Regions from separate parts of the Homo sapiens genome. Here region 2 is linked to region 1. The links come from fine-mapping of genetic effects on gene expression. A gene starts in region 1. The other region holds a variant in brackets. All regions are shown on one strand. Distances are between the middles of the regions.

The links. PIP is the estimated chance that this variant, and not a neighbour inherited with it, causes the effect.
Region 2: its variant is fine-mapped to the expression of EMC1 in tibial artery (GTEx, PIP 0.96).

Annotation. Positions count from the first base shown.
Region 1 is chr1:19,247,025-19,255,024 of GRCh38, forward strand. It overlaps EMC1 (ER membrane protein complex subunit 1), which reads right to left and starts at 4,500. Exons shown (of 23, transcript NM_015047.3): 1 at 4,391-4,500. The coding sequence starts at 4,485. MRTO4 (MRT4 homolog, ribosome maturation factor) reads left to right here and starts at 4,781. Exons shown (of 8, transcript NM_016183.4): 1 at 4,781-4,839; 2 at 7,758-7,816. The coding sequence starts at 4,812. RefSeq lists enhancers at 4,413-4,918, 6,735-7,236, 7,237-7,736 and a silencer at 7,028-7,173.
Region 2 is chr1:19,221,476-19,233,862 of GRCh38, forward strand. It overlaps EMC1 (ER membrane protein complex subunit 1), which reads right to left. Exons shown (of 23, transcript NM_015047.3): 14 at 11,461-11,660; 15 at 11,149-11,298; 16 at 9,786-9,947; 17 at 9,369-9,488; 18 at 5,838-5,975; 19 at 1,921-2,094; 20 at 1,149-1,359. The region is part of intron 1 of EMC1-AS1 (EMC1 antisense RNA 1); the gene reads left to right. Among named protein-coding and RNA genes, the nearest start is that of EMC1-AS1, 17 kb to the left of the region's middle. The variant G/T (reference allele first, on the strand shown) is at 7,625.

The sequences.
Region 1 (8,000 bases):
AGAAGGCAGCCTTTTGCAAGCCAATGAGCGAGGCCTCAGAGGAAACAAAACCTGCCAATGCCTTGATCTTGAATTTCCAGCCTCCAGAACTGTGAGAATATCAATTTCTATTGTTTAAGCCACCTAGTCTATGGTATTTCATTATAGCAGCCTGAGAAAACTAATACAACCACCACTATAGATACACTTTTTATTATTTGAGATGGGATCTCACTGTGCTGCCTAGGCTGGATTGAACTCCTGGGCTCAAGTAATACTCCCATCTCAGCCTCCCAAGTAGCTGGGATTTCAGGTGCATGCCATTGTGCCCAGCTTTGTACATATACTTTTAACGTTTTACTATACAGTCATGCACTGCAAAACAATGTTTCAGTCAATGATTGATCGCATATACAGCATATACAGTGGTGGTCACACAAGAGTATAATGGAGCTGAAAAATTCCTATAACCTAGTAACATTGTAGCTGCTATAACATTGTAGTCGAATGCATTAATCACGTTTGCGGTGAAGGTGGTGTAAACAAACCCACTGTACTGCCAGCTGTATAAAAGTACAGCATATTCAATAATGTATACTACATAATACTTGACAATGATAATAAATGACTGTGTTACTGGTTTACGTATCTACTTTTTATGGTTAGAGTACTCCTTCTACTTATTAAAAGAAAATTAACTGTAAAATAGTCTCATGCAGGTGCTTCAAGAGGTATTCCAAGCTGGCCGCAGTGGCTCATGCCTATAATCCCAGCACTTTGGGAGGCGGAGGCGAGCAGATCACCTGAGGTCAGGAGTTCAAGAACAGCCTGGCCAACATGGTGAAACCCCATTTCTACTAAAAATACAAAAATTAGCCAGGCATAGTGCTGTGCACCACAGTCCCAGCTACTTGGGAGGCTGAGACATGAGAATCACTTGAACCCGGGAGGTGGAGGTTGTAGTGAGCTGAGATCATGCCACTTCACTCCAGGCTGAGCGACAGAGTAAGACTCTGTCCCAAAAAAAAAAAGAGGTATTCCAGAAACAGGCATTGTTATCACAGATGATAGCTCCATGGGTGTTACTGCTCCTGAAAACCTGCCAGTAAGACAGTATGTGGAGGTGGAAGACAGTGATATTGATGATCCTGACCCTATTTAGGCCCAGGCTAATGTGTTTGTGTCTTAGTTTGTTTTTTGTTTGCTTGTTTTTTGAGATGCTCTTACTCTGTCACCCAGACTGGAGTACAGAGGCACCATCACAGCTCACTACAGCCACGACCTCCCAGGCTTAGGTGATCCTCCCACCTCAGCCTCCCGAGTAGCTGGGACTACAGGCACCCACCACCATGCCCGGCTAATTTTTGTATGCTTTGCAGAAATGGGGTTTCGCCATATTGCCCAACCTGTTTTTTGTTTTGTTTTGTTTTGTTTCTGAGATGGAGTCTCGCTCTGTTGCCAGGCTGAGTGCAGTGGCGTGATCTCAACTCACTGCAACCTCCGTCTCCCAGGTTCAAGTAATTCTCCTGCCTCAGCCTCCCAAGTAGCTGGGACTACAGGCGTGTGCCACCACGCCCAGCTAATTTTCGTATTTTTAGGAGAGACGGGGTTTCACCATGTTGGCCACGATGGTCTTGACCTCTTGACTTCGTGATCCACCCGCCTCGGCCTCCCAAAGTGCTGGGATTATAGGCGTGAGCCACCACGCCCAGCCCCAAGCTGGTCTTGAACTCCTGGACTCAAGCCATCCACCCACCTCAGCCTCCCAAAGTGCTAGGATTACAGATGTTAGCCACTGCGCCCGGCCTGTGTCTTAGTTTTTAACAAAATAGTTTAAGACTGAAAAAAAAAATTTTAGTATTGTAGGAAAAAGCTTATAGAATAAAGATATAAGAAAAATATTATTAAGTCAGGCATGGTAGCATATGCCTGTAATCCCAGTTGCTAGGGAGGCTGAGGCAGGAGGCTTGCTTGAGTCCAGGAGTTCAATATCTGCCTGGGGAACATAGCAAGATCCCATGTCAAAAATAAATTTTAAAAATATATTTTTGTACAGCTGTAAAGTCTGTGTTTTATACTAAGTATTATTACAAAAGTCAAAAATTAAAAAAATAAAATGTTTGTAAAGTAAAAAAGTTACATTAAGCTAAGGTTAACTTATTATTGAAGAAATTTTATAAATTTAGTATAGTCTAAATGCACAGTATTTATAAAGTCCACAGTAGTGTACAGTAATGTCCTAAGCCTTTACATTTACTCACCAACCACTTACTGACTAACCCCAGAACAACTCCTAGTTCTGCAAGATACATTCATGTTAAGTGCCCTATACCAGTGTACCATTTTTTATCTTTCATATCCTATTTTTACCATACATTTTCTATGTTTAGATACACAAATATTTACCATTGTGTTACAATTGCCTACAGTTTTCAGTAAAGTAACATGCCGTACAGGTTTGTAGCCTAGGAAGAATAGGCTGTACCATATAGCCTAGGTGTGTAGTAGGCTAAACCATCTAGATTTACATAAGTACATGCTACAACGTTTGCACAAGAGGGCATTTCTCAGGATGTATTCCCATCATTAAGTGATGCATACCTGTATGTCTTCATTTATTTTTCAATCTGAAAACTGTAGGCCAGGTGCAGTGGCTCACACCTGTAATCCCAGCACTTTGGGAGGCCGAGGCAGCCAGATTGCTTGAGCCCAGGTGTTCAAGACCAGCCTGGGCAACATGGCAAAACCCCGTCTCTACAAAAAATACAAAGAAACTGGAGAGGTGTGCACCAGTAGTCCCAGCTACTCAGGAGGCTGAGCTGGGAGGGTCACTTGAACCTGCAAGGTCAAAGCTGCAGTGAGCCATGATAGTACTGTACTCCAGCCTGGGCTACAGAATGAGTCCCTGTCTCAAAAAATTTTAAAAAGTCTTGGCTGGGCGCAGTGGCTCCCACCTGTAATTCCAACACTTTGGGAGGCCTAGGCGGGTGGATTACCTGAGATCGGGAGTTTGAGACCAGCCTGACCAACATGGAGAAACCCTGTCTCTACCAAAAATACAAAAATTAGCTGGGTGTGGTGGCGCATGCCTGTAATCCCAGCTACTCGGGAGGCTGAGGCAGGAGAATCGCTTGAACCCCAGAGGCGGAGGTTGTGGTGAGCCATGAGATCGCGCCATTACACTCCAGCCTGGGCAACAAGAGCAAAACTGTCTCAAAAAAAAAAAAAAAAAAAAAAAAAAAAAGTCTTAAACAGAGTCCTTTTCCCCCCTCATCAGCCTAACCTGGCCCTGGGCTCAGAGCAGAGCTGCCCAAGACACTAAGCAGTTAGGAAATGCCATTCATTCATTCATTCATTCATGAAAATAAAATTAAGAAAATTGCATATATCAAGTATTCTGCAAAATTAGATACACATATCACCCGATATATATGTGTAACATACACATATGACATTGTGAACAGTTGTGCACATCATTAAAAATGTAACATGTTTTATTTGTCACACTGTCTGGCATAACAGGTACTCAACATATATGCGAATCAACTTTTCCAAGACAGAAAATACTTCAGAGGAGGAGAAATCTGACCTGGGCCCTGAAGAATAAAGTGTAAATAGCAATAATAACAGATAACGCTTAATGACTGCATTCAATGAGCCAGGCATTGTGCTAAGTAATTTAATGGGATTGTCTCATTCATTCTCACAAGTACTGTAAGAGATAACGGACTGTTAGTAAACCCATTCTACAGACAAAGAAACCAAGGCACAGAGTGGTTAAGTCACTTTCCCCAAGATCACACAAGTCTTAACTAGTAAAATTCAAACAAAAGCAAGCTACTCCAGGGCCTTAAGGAAGACGTGGGTGGGTGAATGAATGAATGAGTGAATGGCATATTCTAGCTGCTTAGTGTTTTGGGCAATCCTGCTGTGAGCCCAGGGCCAGACTAGGTTGATGAGAGGGGAAAAGGACTCAGTTTAGGACTTTTAAGACGAAAGCTCCTGTTCACTTGCCTACAAGACACCAATTCGAGTAGGAATTAAAGTTCACTGACAGCTTGGCGACCTCTGACACCTGGTAGACCAGAAACCTCACAGTCAAAAAAATCGAACCTGACGAGGGAGGACGGGATCAGTGATCTCTGACCGGCACCCCAAGCATTCCTGGATGGCAGGGCCGGCTTACACGCAAGGATCAGCTTAGAATGACCCCTAACACTTGGTTTAAGGCTCTGCTTCCAACGACTTTAAATCCTTAATAATTTTTTAACAAGGGGCCCCACGTTTTCATTTTGTACTGGGTCCTGCAAATTATGCGGCCAATCCTGTTAAGTGACAACCTTTAGCAGGTAGGAGACAGGTACTGGGGAAACAGCCACTTATCTCTCGAATATGTTCCACACGTACGCACCAATCAAACTTGCCCACTTGGTCTTCGTAGACCGCGGCCGCAGGAATCAGCAGCGTAGCCCAAAGCCAGAAACGAGAAGCCCACTCAGCCGCCATGATGCGAGCGCATGCACCACCCACCGCCGTCCCGGCATGCACCGCGCCGCGGGCTCCGCCTCCGCGGGACCACAGAGCTGGGATAGCGCGCGAGGCCCTCGGTCGGACGGGACGCTCGGGATTCAGGGACTGCCTCGGCACACGGGAAGTTGCCCTACAGGCGCGGGAGAAAGCGCAGGCGGCGGCTTGGCAGGGAGAGGCAGGCTGCAGTGCACATTGGGTCAGGCACACGCGAGGGGCAGCCCCCGAGGGCCGTCCCAGAGTCCCCCGCGCCGCCGGGGTCCTAACGGGGTGCACCGTCTTCCGCCGCACGTGGATTCAGCGCGATGCCCAAATCCAAGCGCGACAAGAAAGGTGGGCGAAGGGGGAGTCGGGACCCTGGGGGGAGCTCCGTGGGCTGGCTACCCAGCCTGCGGTGAGGGCTTCGGGGCGGCGGGGGCGCAGATTGGAACGCCAGGACATCCTCGAGGTGTTCCGCTGCCTCGCTGCGAGCTGGAATGGGGGCTTCGGGGCTGTAAAACCGCCAGAGGTGGCTGACGCCCGGTCGGGTCTGGGGAGCGGAGACTCGTTTTGCCTAGTTTCAGGTGCTCTTGCAAGGCCAACTGGGTCGGGAGGCAGCTCCTGAACACCGCCCCCGGCTATGCCTGCTGCCGTTTCGGCCCACTTTTCCCAACTTCGGCCCTTTCTCATCTTCCTGCGCTCCCGCCACCCTGGCTGCCTTTCCCTTCTTTCAGCACAGGTTTGTTCCCGTGTCTGGCGTTGTGTGTCTGCGGTTGTTTCTGCCTGGCATGCTTACATCTTCGTATGGTTTGCGCCTTCTTAGTTGTCAGTTAATAGGATCCCTCTGAGACAGGGTCTCGCTCTGTTGCCCAGGCTGGAGTGCAGTGGCGCGATCGTAACACTGCAGGCCGGATGCGGTGGCTCACGCCTGTAATCCCAGCACTCTGGGAGGCCGAGGCGGGCGAATCATCTGAGGTCGGGAGTTCCCGACCAGCCTGGCCAATATGGTGAAACCCCTTTTCTACTAAAAATACTAAAAATTAGATGGGCATGGTGGCAGGTGCCTGTAATCCCAGCTACTTGGGAGACTGAGGCGGGAGAATCGCTTGAATCCGGGAGGCGGAGGTTGCAATGAGCCGAGATCGCTCCACTGTACTGCAGCCTGGGCACGACAGAGCGAGACTCCGTCTCAAAAATAAATAAATAAAATAAGTCACTGCAGCCTTGACCTCCTTGGCTTAAGCGATCCTCCCACCTCAACCTCCCGAGTAGCTGAGACTACAGGCGCACGCCACCACACCCAGCTAGGTTTTTTTTGTTTATTTTTTATAGAGAAGACTCAGTGTGTTGCCAAGCTGGTCTCGAACACCTGGGCTCCAACCACCCTCCCTGAGTGCTGGGATTACAGGCGTGAGCCACTACACCCGACTTGCGCACCTCTTAAGAGACCGTTTTTGACCACCTTTGCTGTGGTGGCCTCTCTCTTAACCCGGCTCCCTGGAATATTCAAAAATATTTAGGGGTCTGGCACTTTCTAGGCGTTAGAGGATACAGCAGTCACAAGGAAAGCCTATTTCTTATCGAGCCTAACGTTTTAGGAGAAACATATTCCGCAAAATGCTAAAAATCAGATTGAAAATGGGGTGAAGAGATGTTGATATTTTGTATAGTGTGGTCGGGAAAGGTCTCACTGATGAAGTGACAAATGAGCAGAAAATAAAGAAAGGAAGCGAGCAACCTGTGGAATTGAGCAGCTGTGGAATTATCTGGGAGAATGCTGTTCCAAGTAGAGGGAACCTGAAGTGAAAAGGCTCTGAAATGGGAGCAGATATGACGTGTTTGGGACAAGAGGCCAGTGAGGCTGGAGCAGAAGGAGCCAAATAGAGTTTGGGGAGGGAGTTAGGCAGAGAGGGCAGGACTTCCTCGGCCTTGGCAAGGCATTGGCTTTCCTGCCCAGGTGAAGTGAGTAGCAGAGGACCCATGTGATTTACCTTTACTTATGAAGGGTCACTCTGGTTGCCTTGGTGAGAATAGTTGGGGAAGACAGGGCAGAGGGCAGGAATGGAAGCAGTGAGACCAGCATTAATCCAAGACAGGGTGATGCTGGCTTGAGCCAAAGGTATAACAGTGGAAATGATGGGAAGTGGCCCGCTATATTTCGTTTGCCCTCCTCTGCTCCACTTACCATTGACTGATGTCATTGTCTTTGTCTGTGTGGTACCTAGTTAAGAGGGGCTGAGTGCGGGCAGGTTAAAGAAGAGAGGCCTGGGTCCCTTTGTGAAGGCGCCCGGGGCTTTGCAGTTGGAGTTCTGTTAAGTGTTTCTGGAACGATTTGATTCTGTGGAGGGGCCTGGGTCAGGTCTGGCAAATGCCAAACTCTGTGGGTAGAGGGCAAATTGGGCCCCAGCCATTTTTACAGTAGAGGTACATGTTCCTCCCCAGAGAGGTGTTGCTGCGTCTTTGGGTCCAAATTGCAATACTGGGGTGCAGATACATACCAGGAGATTCAGTCCCCAGCCTCATGGTTGCACAGCATAGGCCAGCTAGAGTGGCCTCTGCATCATGGTCAAGAGCAGCAAGGGGCCAGGCATGGTGGCTCACACCTATGATTCCAACACTTTGGGAGACTGAGGTAGGCAGATCTCTTGAGCCCAGGAGTTCGAGACCAACCTGGGCAACATGGCAAAAGCCATCTCTGCAAAAAATACAAAACTCACCTGGGCATGGTGGTGCATTTCTGTGGTCCCAGCCAAAATTAGCAGGCCATGGTGGTGTGTGCCTGTAGTCCTGTGTGGGAGGATTGCCTGAGCCTAGGAGCTCAAAGTTGCAGTGAGCCCAGATCGTGCCATTGCAGTCCAGCCTGGGTGACAGAGTGAGACCCCATGTCAAAAAAAAAACAAAAAACAGGGGCCTGCCTCAGCCAGCAGGTGAGGTCTGCCACTGAGAGCACTTCTAGCAGCAGGAACAGCCTCCACCCCCACACTGCAATCAAGTTTTTTGGGTCAGCCTTAGGAGCTAAGAAAGGCCTAGTTTGTCTAAATAGCAGGAGTTATATCCAGGGATCTTCAGGCCCAGGAATGCTAATGAGTAGGCATTCCATGGGCCCTGGGAATGGCTTTGTGTGCCAGAAATGATGGCCACAAAGGCCTTGCTGCCTTTTTTCAGAATGGCTGCATCCAGCTGAGTGCTCTCTGCCAAAGGGGAGAAGAAAATAAGTCTCCAGTGCATTTAGATTGGTCTCTCATCATCTCTCTCCTTTTTGTTTTTATTAGTCTCCTTAACCAAAACTGCCAAGAAAGGCTTGGAATTGAAACAAAACCTGATAGAAGAGGTAAGAGGTTGTTCTTTTCTAGAGCTTGCAATTGTTTGGTTTATAAAGGTAGGTATAGGACTGTTGGCCAGGGATAGGACTGTTGGCCAGGGGAACATACTAGTGGGGAAAAAAAAAAAATCTCCAAGCTGCCAATCCAGGCCTTTTTCCTCCAGCAGCAGCACCAGCAAAAACTTCCATAGTG
Region 2 (12,387 bases), 23 kb before region 1:
AAATTTAAAAATGAGCTGGGCACAGTGGCACGCACCTGTAGTCCCAGCTACTCAGCAGACTGAGGCAGGAGAATCACTTGAACCAGGGAGGCTGAAGTTGCAGTGAGCTGAGATCGCACCACTGCACTCCAGCCTGGGTGACAGAGCAAGACTCTGTCTCAAAAAAAAAAAAAAAAAAGCAACAGCAATGCCAAGTGCCCATCAGATCTGAGAGTCCCAAACATCTTCGGTAAAATCAACTAAACACAGGAACCTGTTAACCACTAAGTCCTAAGTCCTGGGCTTAGGTTACATAAGGATGAGATTTTAGGGCTGGCGCAGTGGCTCACACATATAATCCCAACACTTTGGGAGGCCAAGGCAGGCGGATCACTTGAGGTCAGGAGTTCAAGACCAGCCTGGCCAACATGGCGAAACCCCATCTCTACTAAAAATACAAAAATTAGCCGGGCGTGGTGGTGCACGCCTGTTAACTACTTGGGAGGCTGAGGAGGAGGATCACTTGAACCCAGGAGGCGGAGGTTGCAGTGAGCCAAGATCGTGCCACTGCACTCCAGCCTGGGCAATAGACCCTGCCAGTTTCTGCAAGCTGTCAGCACAGGCTAGCTATGTTAACAATGCTATCAGGAACTGACTTTTTGAGCTAGGTGAAAATGCCAAATAGAGAGGTGGTATATCAGAAATGAGGACTGAAGGCCAGGCAGCCAGGCACGATGGCTCACACCTGTAATCCCAACACTTCAGGAGGCCAAGGCAGGAGGATCACATGAGCCCAGGAGTCTAGATCAGCCTGGGCAACATGGCAAATCCCTGTCTCTACCAAAAAAAATTTTTTTAATTAGCCAGGTGAGCTCAGGAGGTTGAGGCTGCAGTGAGTCATGATCACACCACTGCACTCCAGCCTGGATGACAGAGTGAGACCCTGTCTCGAAAAACAAAAAAAAGATGAGAACTGAGAGAGAAGTGGTCACCTTCATAGGTGGCAAAGATGAACTAAGAAACTTTTTCCACCGATATATAGCCCTCCTCACCACCTTTCCCTTACAGGTGGTTCAACAAGGCTCTGCCAGCAATGTGTCCCTTGCTCTGTCCTTAAGTGTGGTTGCCCAAGGGAACCCAGCCATCCCAGAGGCTCCCCAGTCACTCACTCAGCAGGTGTCGGCTGGTGATGCCCCGTTCGGTGATGGTGGCCTCCATGGCACTGATGGAGGACGGGAAGATATAGGACTGCTGGAGGACCTGGGGCAGCTGGGGGCGGTCCAGGGAGCTGAAGGCGGTGGCGTTGTATTGCTCAGTGCCCTCATAGAGCTCCAGTACGGTAAACTCGTTGCGCCGAGCCTTGGTGTTCCAGTACTGGTACTGCAGGGATAGGAGGTGGCAGCTCAGGGCTTAGCAGCTGCTTCAACTGGAAAGGGAAATTGCACTGGAAGGCACCCCTCTAATTAGCTACAGATCCATGAAGGAGAACCATCAACTAGCACCTCACTTTTCTTCCTTACTATCAAGTTTACTAACTTTCAAAGTAGTTTTATCTAGGCTATCGAAAGTTCACCACAAAACAAAGGAAATTCTCAAGAGTCTTAGAAGCCATAATAGTAGCTAACCTTTGAATCATTACTAGGTGCCAGGCATTGTTCTTTGCTAGACTGAAGGTGACTGTTATTATCCCTATTTTAACAATGATGCAACACAGAGCGTGTACATAACTAGTTCAAGGTTATACAGTCAGGAAACGGAAGAGGTAAGATTAAACCTAGGCAATCTGATTCCTGAGCCCAGTGCCCTAACCGGCACGCTTTGCTGCCATCCAGGGAATTTGAGATCCTAAGAAAACCAAAGCAGCAACTGGGTTTCTGGAAAGGACTCAGGAGGCAGGGAGACCTCTGGAGCTACCTTGGGTCCCTGGTAGTGACCGCTTACCACCACCCAGTTCTCTGAATGCACGATATGGACAGGGCCTTTGGCTTTCTTCTGCACAGAGGAGTGAATGATACGCCCAGTGACGCCATCAATGAGGAAGATGCCAATAAAGGTGCGCTCATGGTGCGCGTCTGTGCTCTCTGTCACCACGGCCAGCAGGTTGGGGTTCAGGCTCTGGAGAGAGAGAGAAAACCTCCCTTAGAACCACGACGACTCATCACACACTCCATTCCTGTGCTGTGAGACCAACCTGGAGCTCTCCAGCCTGGCAGAGGAATCAGGGTTTCTGGTGAAAAGAGCTTCCTGTTTGGAATTTCTCATCACTGCACTTGTTTTATGTGCATTGGGTACTGGGTGCCATGCCAGGTACCTTGTATTTTATCTAATCCCTTAAACAGTCTTGCAGAGTAGCTATTATGGTCCACATTTTGCAGAAAAGTCCCAAAGTAGTTAAGCAGCTTTTCAAGTCACAGATAGCAAATGGTAACCCAAGACAAAATCCAGGTCTGCCCACTCATTGACCTAGGGACAAATGCTGCAGTGATATTTTTCTTCTGAGGGTCACCACCCCCCTCCCCATCGCTAAATCCAGTGGCTAAGTCTTGGCCCTCAACTTACTTGACCCACTAGTACCACGTGACGCAGGTGATCACTACCTCCTTGCGACATTTTCTCACCTGGCTTCCAGAACATCCCTGCCCAGCACTCCTTCTACTTTACTGGCCTCTCCTTCTCAGTCTCTTTTGGAGGTTCTTCCACATCTCCCCAGTTTCTTCATGGTGGAACACATCAGAAAGCTCTCAAGCCTTGAGCATTTCCGTCACACTTACCCTCGTGGTGATCTCAAGCCAATCTCATGGCTTGAACACCATTTATGGATGTTGGCAATGCCCAATGTATATATCCAAACCAGATACTCCTTTGAACTCCAGACTTCACTAAGAAATTATCTCAGTATCTTTTCTCAGATGTTTCATCTGAAACTTAACATGGCCCAAGCTGAACTGTTCTAACTCCTGCCTAAAATCTGCTCCTCTCTCCTCCCCAGCCAGTCACGACTCCATACATCAGTGGCTCAGACCTAAAGCCTCGAGTTATCCTTGACTCCTTTCTCTGTAACACACATATACCTGCTCTTGGCTCTACCTTCAAAAGTACCCAGAACCTGATCCCTCCTTCCCACCTCCATGCTACCAGCCCAGCTCCAGCCACCATCAGCACCTGGATGACCCCACAGCCTAAATGGTCTGCTTTCCTCCTCACCCCTCTACAGTCTAATCTAGGTCAAATGAGCCTGTGGAATCTCAGTCACTGATGTCACTCCTCTGCTGAAAACTTCCCAGTGGCTCTTCACCGTGCTCCAAAGTGAAGGCCACGGTGGTGGCCTGTGATCTGGCCCTGTTGCCCTCTGCCCTCAGCAGGCCTGACATGCCTCCTCACTCATCATCTTCTAGTTACCTGGTCTTCTTTGCTGTTTCTCACACATACCAGGAGCACTTTGACTTTTCTCTCTGGAAGGCTCTCCCCGCAGCTACCCACACAACTCACTTCCTCACTCAAGTCCACTCACTCCGTGCCACTTTCTCACTAAGCCCCTCCTTAGCCACCCGACTTACACTGTACCTGCTTTCCCTCTTCCCGGCTTTATTTTTCTCTATAGAACTGGTCACTTTCTAATATACTATCTAATTTACCTATTTATTTTCTTTATTATTAGCCTCACCCAACTATGATGAAAGCCTCACGAGGTCAGGAAGTTTTGTCTGTTTTGCCCATTTTATATCCCAGTGTCTAAATGAGTGCCTGCATCCAGCTAGCACTCAAAAACTGCTTGCTGCTGGCCGGGTGCGGTGGCTCATGCCTGTAATCCTAACACTTTGGGAGGCCAAGATGGGAGGATTGCTTGAGCCCAGGAGTTTAAGACCAATCTGAACAACACAGCAAGACCCCATCTCTAAAGAAAATAAAATAAGTGCCTGGGCACGGTGGCTCCCGCCTGTAATCCCAGCACTTAGGGAGGCCAAGGCGGGCAGATCACGAGATCAAGAGATCAAGACCATCCTGGCCAACATGGTGAAACCCCATCTCTAAAAATACAAAATTTAGCTGGGCATGGTGGTGCGCGCTTGTAGTCCCAGCTACTCGGGAGGCTGAGGCAGGAGAATCTCTTGAACCTGGGACGTGGAGGTTGCAGTGAGCCAAGATCGTGCCACTGCACTCCAGCCTGGTGAAAGAGCAAGACTCCATCTCAAAAAAAAAGAAAAGAAAGAAAAGAAAATAAGCCATGGTGACATGCACCTGTTGTCCCAGCTGCTTAGGAGGCTGAGATGGGAGGACTGCTTAAGCCCGGGAGGTCAAAGCTGCAGTGAGCTGTGATCACACCACTGCACTCCAGCCTGGGCAACATGGCAAGACCCTGTCTCAAAAAAAAAAAAAAAGAGTCAATAGCACTAATAATAATGTTAAGTATGTGGCAGGCACTATTCTAATCACTTTACATGTTATCATTAATCTTCAAAACAATCCTCTGACGTTGGTGCTATTATCCCCATTATACTGGGGAAAATTGAAGCTCAGGCAGCCTAAGAGATGAACAGCTAGGCCACGGCAGAGCCAAGTCTTAACAGTCAAACTAGAGGCTTGCACTGTGTTGCACTGGCTCATGCTTAGTGATCCAGCTTTACCGTCAAGTTCCGTGATCTCTATTCTATGACACCCCCTCCAATTCAGTCTCTGCTGTACCAGAGGGTGTAATTAATGTGCATTACTACTATCATTACATTCTCTCCCATAACAGTTTTGCAGCCCACTAGTCACCTTAATCTCCCTCTCTTTAACACTAACTAGAGTGTTGGATCACAGAGATGGAGTTTCTGATGGCTCGACTATGGTTTAACCCCAGAATGCTCTATCAGTACTACCACTAGTAATAAGAGCTGGGCTAGGCGCAGTGGCTCAAGTCTCTAACCTCAACACTTTGGGAGGCTAAGGTAAGAGAACTGCTTGAGGCCAGGAGATAGAGACCAACCTAGGCAACATAGTGAGACCCTGTCAATATAAAAATAAAAAATTAAAAAAAAATTTTTTTTTGAAGACAGGGTTTTACTATGTTTCCTAGGTTGATCTCTATCTTCTACAAAAATAAAAAATTTAAAAAAAATTTTTTTTGTTTGTTTGGAGACAGGGTCTCACTCTGTCACCCAGGCTGGAGTGCAGCGGCACAATTGCAGCTCACTGTAGCCTCAACCTCCCCAGGCTCAGGTGATCCTCCTACCTCAGCCTCCCGAGTAGCTGAGACCACAGGCATGCACCACCATGCCCAGCTAATTGTTTTTTTTGTTTTTTTTTTTTGGGGGTGGTAAAGACAAGGTTTCAGCCATGTTGCCCAAGCTGGCCTCAAACTCCTGGACTCAAGTAATCCACCCACCTCGACCTCTCAAAATGCTGGGATTACTGGCATGAGCCACCAAGCCCAGCCGTTTTTAAAAAATTAGCATGACATGTGCCTGTGGTTCCAATTACTTGGGAGACTGAGGTGAAAGGATTGCATAAGCCCAGGAGGACGAAGCTGCAGTGAGCCATGACTGCATCACTGCACTCCAGCCTGGGCAACAGAGCAAGACTCTGTCACAGGAAACAAACAAACAAAAAAAAAGTCAAAAAAATAAGAGCTAACATCTGTTGCTTACTTACCATATGCTAGGCACTGGGCTAGACATGAACATCCCATGTGATCATCACAACAAGCCCAGGAGGAGGGTATATTATCCCCATTTCACAAACAAAAATTAAGGCTCAAAGGGATTAAATGACTTACTCAAGGTCATATATGTACCAAGTCCTACAGCCAGACTTGAAGCCCTTGTTTTCCTGATTCGAAAGCCCTTGCTGTAGACCAGACAGCTGGCTGTATGTACCTTGTAGAGCACACTGCGGTCCCCCATCACACGGCCCTGGGAATGAACGTGCTCACTGCTGCGTTTCCCCTTCACCTTGACGATCCGCTGTACTTCTGGGGGAATGGTCAGCTCCCAACTCAGCTCAGTGGTGAGATCCTAGGGCAGGGGCAAAAAAGCCTGTAATCAGGAGGGTACACTTAGAACTGAAACAGCTGGAGTTAGACACATCCTACAGTTCATTATTTGAGGCCTTTGTGCAGGAAGGAATAGAGATCAGAACTAGAAAAATGAGCCAGGAGCAGTGGCTCATTCTTGTAATCCCAGCACTTTGGGAGGCCAAGGCGGGCGGATCACTTGAGGTCAGGAGTTCAAGACCAACCTGGCCAACATGGCCAAACCCCATCTCTACTAAACATACAAAAAATTAGCCAGATGTGGTGGCAGGCACCTATAATCCTAGCCACTCGGGAGGCTGAGGCAGAGGCTGCAGTGAGCTGAGATCACGCCACTGCACTCCAGCCTGAGTGACAGAGCAAGACTCAAAACAAAAAATAAACCAGAAAAACAGCAATAGAGATCTAGTTTATGAAGAAATTTCAGAACTCTCGGTTTGATTAAGATAGATACTAGACCGGGCGTGGTGGCTCACACCTGTAATCCCAGCACTTCGGGAGGCCGAGGCAGGTGGATCACCTGAGGTCGGGAGTTTGAGACCAGCCTGACCAACATAGAGAAACCACATCTCTACTAAAAATGCAAAATTAGCCGGGTGTGGTGGCGCATGCTTTTAATCCCAGGTACTCAGGAGGCTGAGGCAAGAGAATCACTTGAACCCAGGAGGTGGAGGTTGCAGTGAGCCGAGACTGCACCATTGCACTCCAGCCTGGGCAACAAGAGCGAAACTCCGGCTCAAAAAAAAAAAAAAAAAGATAATAAAGCCAGTAGGAAAGGAGGCGAACGCTCAATAGTATCCCGTTGTTTATCTGAGTAGGAAATATGCAAGGAAAATTTACCATTTATTACTAAACTCCAAGATCCCTGTATACTGGGGCCAGCAGTGAATGTCTAAGCTAACAGGGAGCTCAAAACATTTCGTGTATGATTGTTTATGGTCATAGGAAACCAACCAATAAACACTCATGGTTAAATACATTATTATACATCCATCCTATGGAATTATGCGGAGCCCTTGGGGGTGGAGACAGGAGGTAGTTACTGGCAAAGGGCACAAGGGCCTTCTAGGAGCTGGTGCTATTCTGTTTCCTGAAGTGGTCACCAGGTACACAAGTGTATTCCCTTGGTGAGGGTTCACTGAGCCATACCTCATGATTTTGCACTTTTGTCAATATTTTTCTGTAATAAAAAACTGAAGTTGACAAAACAATGAGGTAGAAAACCCATTAAATGAAAAAAAGCAAATTTCATAAGAATAAATATAGGTCAATTGCATGTGAATGAGAAAAAAAAATAAAATGGGCCGGGCGTGGTGGCTCACACCTGTAATCCCAGCACTTTCGGAGCCCGAGGCGGGAGGATCACTTGAGGTCAGGAGTTTGAGACCAGCCTGGTCAACATGGTGAAACCCCGTCTCTACTGAAAATACAAAAATTAGCCAGGCATGGTGGCGTGCACATGTAGTCTTGGGAAGCTGAGGCAGGAGAATCGCTTGAAACCAGGAGGCAGAGGTTGCAGTGAGCTGAGACTGCGCCCCTGCACTCCAGCCTGGGTGACAGAGCGAGACTCTGTCTCTAAAAAAAAATAAATAAAGTATGAGCCACACACGTGTGTCCACACAGCTGTTGATA[G/T]GGAATCATAAATACACAAGGACAGTAGAAAGAGGCACAGCAAACTGCTGACAGGCTTTCCACCTGGGGAGGGGAAGACCGCTGGGAATGGGGCTACAAGGGTCTGTTCACATTTTGCTTGTTCACCTCTCTGTATCAATGGACTCTTTTACAATGAGAATATACTCAATGTATTACCTAAATTTTTAAAATAGTGAAAATTATTAATAATAAGCCTTCATTGCCACAACCTTCTTTGAAAACATAAGAACTCACTAAAACATCCCCAGAGAGGAAGGTCACCAAGTGAGGGCAAAGGCAGCACACTCCCTTGTGGTCCCGGACTCGCGCACACAGCTGGCTCACTTCCCACAGACAGCTCTGCCTCCTTTGTCTTCCTTGGTCATTGTTCACTCAGATGATGTCCTCAGGACTCCAGATTCATGACACCCACACTCCAGTTCACTCCCCTGAATCTACAAAACTGTCTCTTTCAAGGTCCTCTTTTTATTAACTCAGAAGGATGATTTTATTTATTTATGTTTTCATTCACAAGGGTAAAGGATGTGTCTTCTGGGCAGACCATTTCCAGTGCTGTTTATGCTAAGGTTAGCTGTTACAAATGTCACAAAAGGGCGCTGCATTTTCAAAACAACAGCACCTCCAACTCAGATGGCATTTACCATGTGCCAGGCAGTTTTATGTGATTTATGTGTTGAATTCTCACAACAACCTTATGAGACAGGTACTTATCACCTTATTTTACAGATAAGAAAACAGAAGACCAGAGCCCAAGGTCACAAAGTTAGTAAGTGACAAACCTAGACTTCCAATCTAGCAAATTGGTTAAACTCTATGCCTCTCAAAAGGCCTTACAGGACAGGATGGGAGAGCTGTTTGTGAGTACACACCACAGAGTACTTCTCCAAACAGTCCTGCTAACAAGGCCATGCCAGCCCCTCGTGAACTTCAGAGCTGGACTTCACAGCCAGCGTGTATTACTGTTTACAAGAGTTGGTCTCAAGTATGTGAGGATTAAAGCAAACTGACCCCCTTTCTAGAAATAAAATTCAAAGCACACATTCCATCACGAGTTGGTCAACATCATCTTCATATAAAAGTACAACTTATTACTCAACCCACATTCCTACCTTCTACCCTCCCAAGAATGGAAAAAAAGTCCCATCTCTCTGCTATAGAAAAATAATGGGGCCAGGCGCGGTGGCTCACGCCTGTAATCCCAGCACTTTGGGAGGCTGAGGCAGGTGGATCACAAGGTCAGGAGTTTGAGACCATCCTGGCCAACACAGCAAAGCCCTGTCTCTACTAAAAATACAAAAAATTAGCCGGGCGCGGTGGCGCACGCCTGTAATCCCAGCTACTTGGGTGTCTGAGGCAGGAGAATCGCTTGAACCAAGGAGGCAGAGGTTGCAGTGAGCCGAGATCGCACCACTGCACTCCAGCCCGGGCGACAGTGCAAGACTCCATCTCAAAAAAAAAAAGAAAAAGAATGTGGAATGAAAGCTCCACAAGGGCAGAGATTTGTTCTACTGTGCACCACTCCATCCACAGCACCTAGAACCGTATCTGCCATGTAGTAGCTGCCCAACAAATATGAACAAATGATTGACTTTGTATCAGACATCAGGATTATGCTAATCTAAGTTTACAGTAGAATGAGTAGCATAATTCACTTCTTAGCCAAATGGCCAGGAAACACCTGCATCTCATCCACAAAGGGTTGTGCCAGGACATGCCTTCCTACCTTTCGAAGCCGATATCCACACAGCCGTCCCTGCTCTGCATCCACCAAATAGAAGAAGATGGAAGGGGCAAGCTCATGTAGCTGTCGCAAGACATTCCGAGTGGCTGGAAAAGCTGTGACCTTGAAAAACCCAGAGAGCCCAAGGAAAGAGTTAGGAAATTTCCCCATCAAAGAGAGCCTTAAGAATAAAACTGCAAATCAGTTGATTTGAACTCAGTTTAGGGTTTACATTCAGTTCTGTTAAGAACCTGAGTTTTCACAAATGCAGACACAGCCATCATTTCTCTTCGGGATGGCCTTAGAGCCCAAACACGTGCTGGGTGCAGAGAGCACTCCATCTCCGGGCCGCTGTGTTTGACCACCTGGCCCCAAACCGGACTCCGCTAGCATGTTCTCCATCCCCTCTGAAGACAGTACCTTGTATTCATCATCTATCAACAGCAACACCTTGGCGTAGTCTTGATCCATGACTGGGAGAAGCAAGGACTGCAAGATGGGGCGCTTCAGCACTGGGGGAGCTACCTGACTCCACTTCCCAAAAATGGGATTGAAGACATACAGAGAACTCATTCCCGACTCCTAAAATGAGCAAACTGTCAGGCTCCACCAACAAGAAAAGACTGCAAATCCTAGGGATAGACCTGAAGAGCTGGGACTCCAGCTCAACAACTGTGGGGGTTCTCTAGTCTTTGCCCTCTTTGTGGAAAATAAGTTCTTGGCTGTAGGTGAATAGTCCCCTAGGCTAACGTCACAAAGAAAAAAGTCAAACTGTCTCTGCCAGTTCTTTTTCGTTTGAGACAGGGTCTCTCTCTATCACCCAAGCTGGAAGTACAGTGGCATGATCAAGGCTCACTGCAACCTCTGCCTCCCAGGTTCAAGTGATCCTCCCACCTCAACCTCCCAAGTAGCTGGGACTACAGGCACAAACCACCACACGTGGCTAATTCTGTTTTTATTTTTTGTAGAGAGGGGTTTCACCATGTTGCCCAGGCTGGTCTCGAACTCCTGGACTCAAGCAATCCGCCCTCCTTGGCCTCCCAAAGTGCTGAGATTATAAGCGTGAGCCACCGCGCCTGGCTGCTCTGCCAGTTCTAAACAAGAACTAATAAAAAAGTCAAGTAACAATTCAGCAACCTGGCCGGGCGTGGTGGCTCACACCTGTAATCCCAGTACTTTGGGAGGCCGAGGCAGGTGGATCATCTAAGGTCAGGAGTTTGAGACCAGCCTGGCCAACATGGTGAGACCCTGTCTCTACTAAACATACAAAAATCAGCCGGGCATGATGGCGTGTGCCTGTAATCCCAGCTACTCGGGAGGCTGAGGCACAAGAATTGCTTGAACCTGGGAGGTGGAGGCTGCAGTGAGCCGAGATCGCACCAGGCAGCCGTTCCAGGAAAGTGTCTACCAAGCCCGCCTTCTATGCTAGAATGAATACACAAAAATCCATTCTAATTCTGGGAAGACACAAAAATATCTTTGTGTCCTGCTCTTCCTCAAAGAGAGAAGAGAAAATAGCCACTCAGCAACCAACAGCCAATGTTTAGAAAAGAGGAGAGCTGGCTCCCTACATAGCTGGTGAAGTCACACCCACTTTCTAAACAATTCCACATCAGTGCTGGATGGTTCCTCCACCCATGCATGAAACTAGAAGAAACAGAGTTCTAACCCCTGAATGTTCCTCATTAACTCACACAATTCCAAGGGCCTAGGAGCAATTTAAGTTACAAAATAGCAAAAAAGCCACACTGAGTCTGGCTCAAGTCAGAGCTGGATGCCTCACCTTGTCCTTCACCAGCAGGGTGCACTGTGGGGGATGGGGGAAATGAGCAGTAGTTCTCTGGACCATCAGTTTAAAGGAGGAGTCTGGCTTGACATTGGGTAGATACTGTTTCCACAGGATGGTGCCAGAGCTGCTCTCAATGCCAAAAAGCTGCAAGATAAACAAATACTTGGCTCACTACTAGAAAGAGAAACCAAAGAACTGAGTCTGTCCTTGAAAACTAGAACCAGTGTTATCCCTCACTGAAGGCTTTTTGTTCCTCACCCTCAGAATTTGAAAAGGTTCAGTAACTGGAGCTTAAACCCCACTCACCTTGCCTGAGGCTGTTACCATCACCATCATCTTCTGGAGGTTGAATTCATCTCTGGCCAGGGTGTCAATGTTGATCTCATTCTTAATCTGACTCCGGGGCTTCCGAGCATCATAAAACATTTTCCAGAGGTGGGAAGTCCATGCTTGCAGCAGGATAAGCTGAGACGAGAGGCGTTTCAGGAACATCCCCAGCAAGCCATCTGGTGTAAAGGAAAAGTAACATACTCTACATCAGACTAGGGGTCCATAAGGAGGTACATGATTTTCCTAATGAGGGATCTCTGCCTCTCCTCTGGAGCAATAAAGTCCACACTCTAGGCCACAAGCCCAAAGGGCAGTCCTGTATCTGATGCCCAAAGTCTCACACTCAGGTGAGGCTCATGCAGGAGCTTCCAAAAACTGCTTAACTGGCTCTTAACAACTAAACCCAGCTGGAATCTTGGAATAGGAGACTAAGAGGTCAGGGATCAGGCATGCAGGAGACAGCCATGCTGTGAATGTCTCCACCACAGCCCCACATCCAAGATGCTAAAAGAAGGTTTCTGGGTGCCATGACAAAGCCAGAAGAGGTATGAGTGTGGGGGTGGAGGGTGCAGGTCAGTGAATATGTATCATGAGCAGGTACTTCCATCTCCCATTGCTTCATTCCTACTTTGTCAGCTGTTTAACCTGCACCCAACAGACGTACTTGCAACGAGTTCCCAGGACCATCATTCACTCTTTCCCTGATTCCGTCAATGAAGCCACTGCCCTCCAAATCTCCTCCATTGGAGACCACAGATTTGTAAACAGATGCAAGGAAGCAAGGTAAAGAGCATGGTCTCTGGAATCTAGCAGGCCCAGATTAAGATCCCAGCTTCACCACTCACTGCGGGGTAACACTGAGAAATGTACTTCACCTTTTTGCTTCTGGTTCCTCATCTGTAA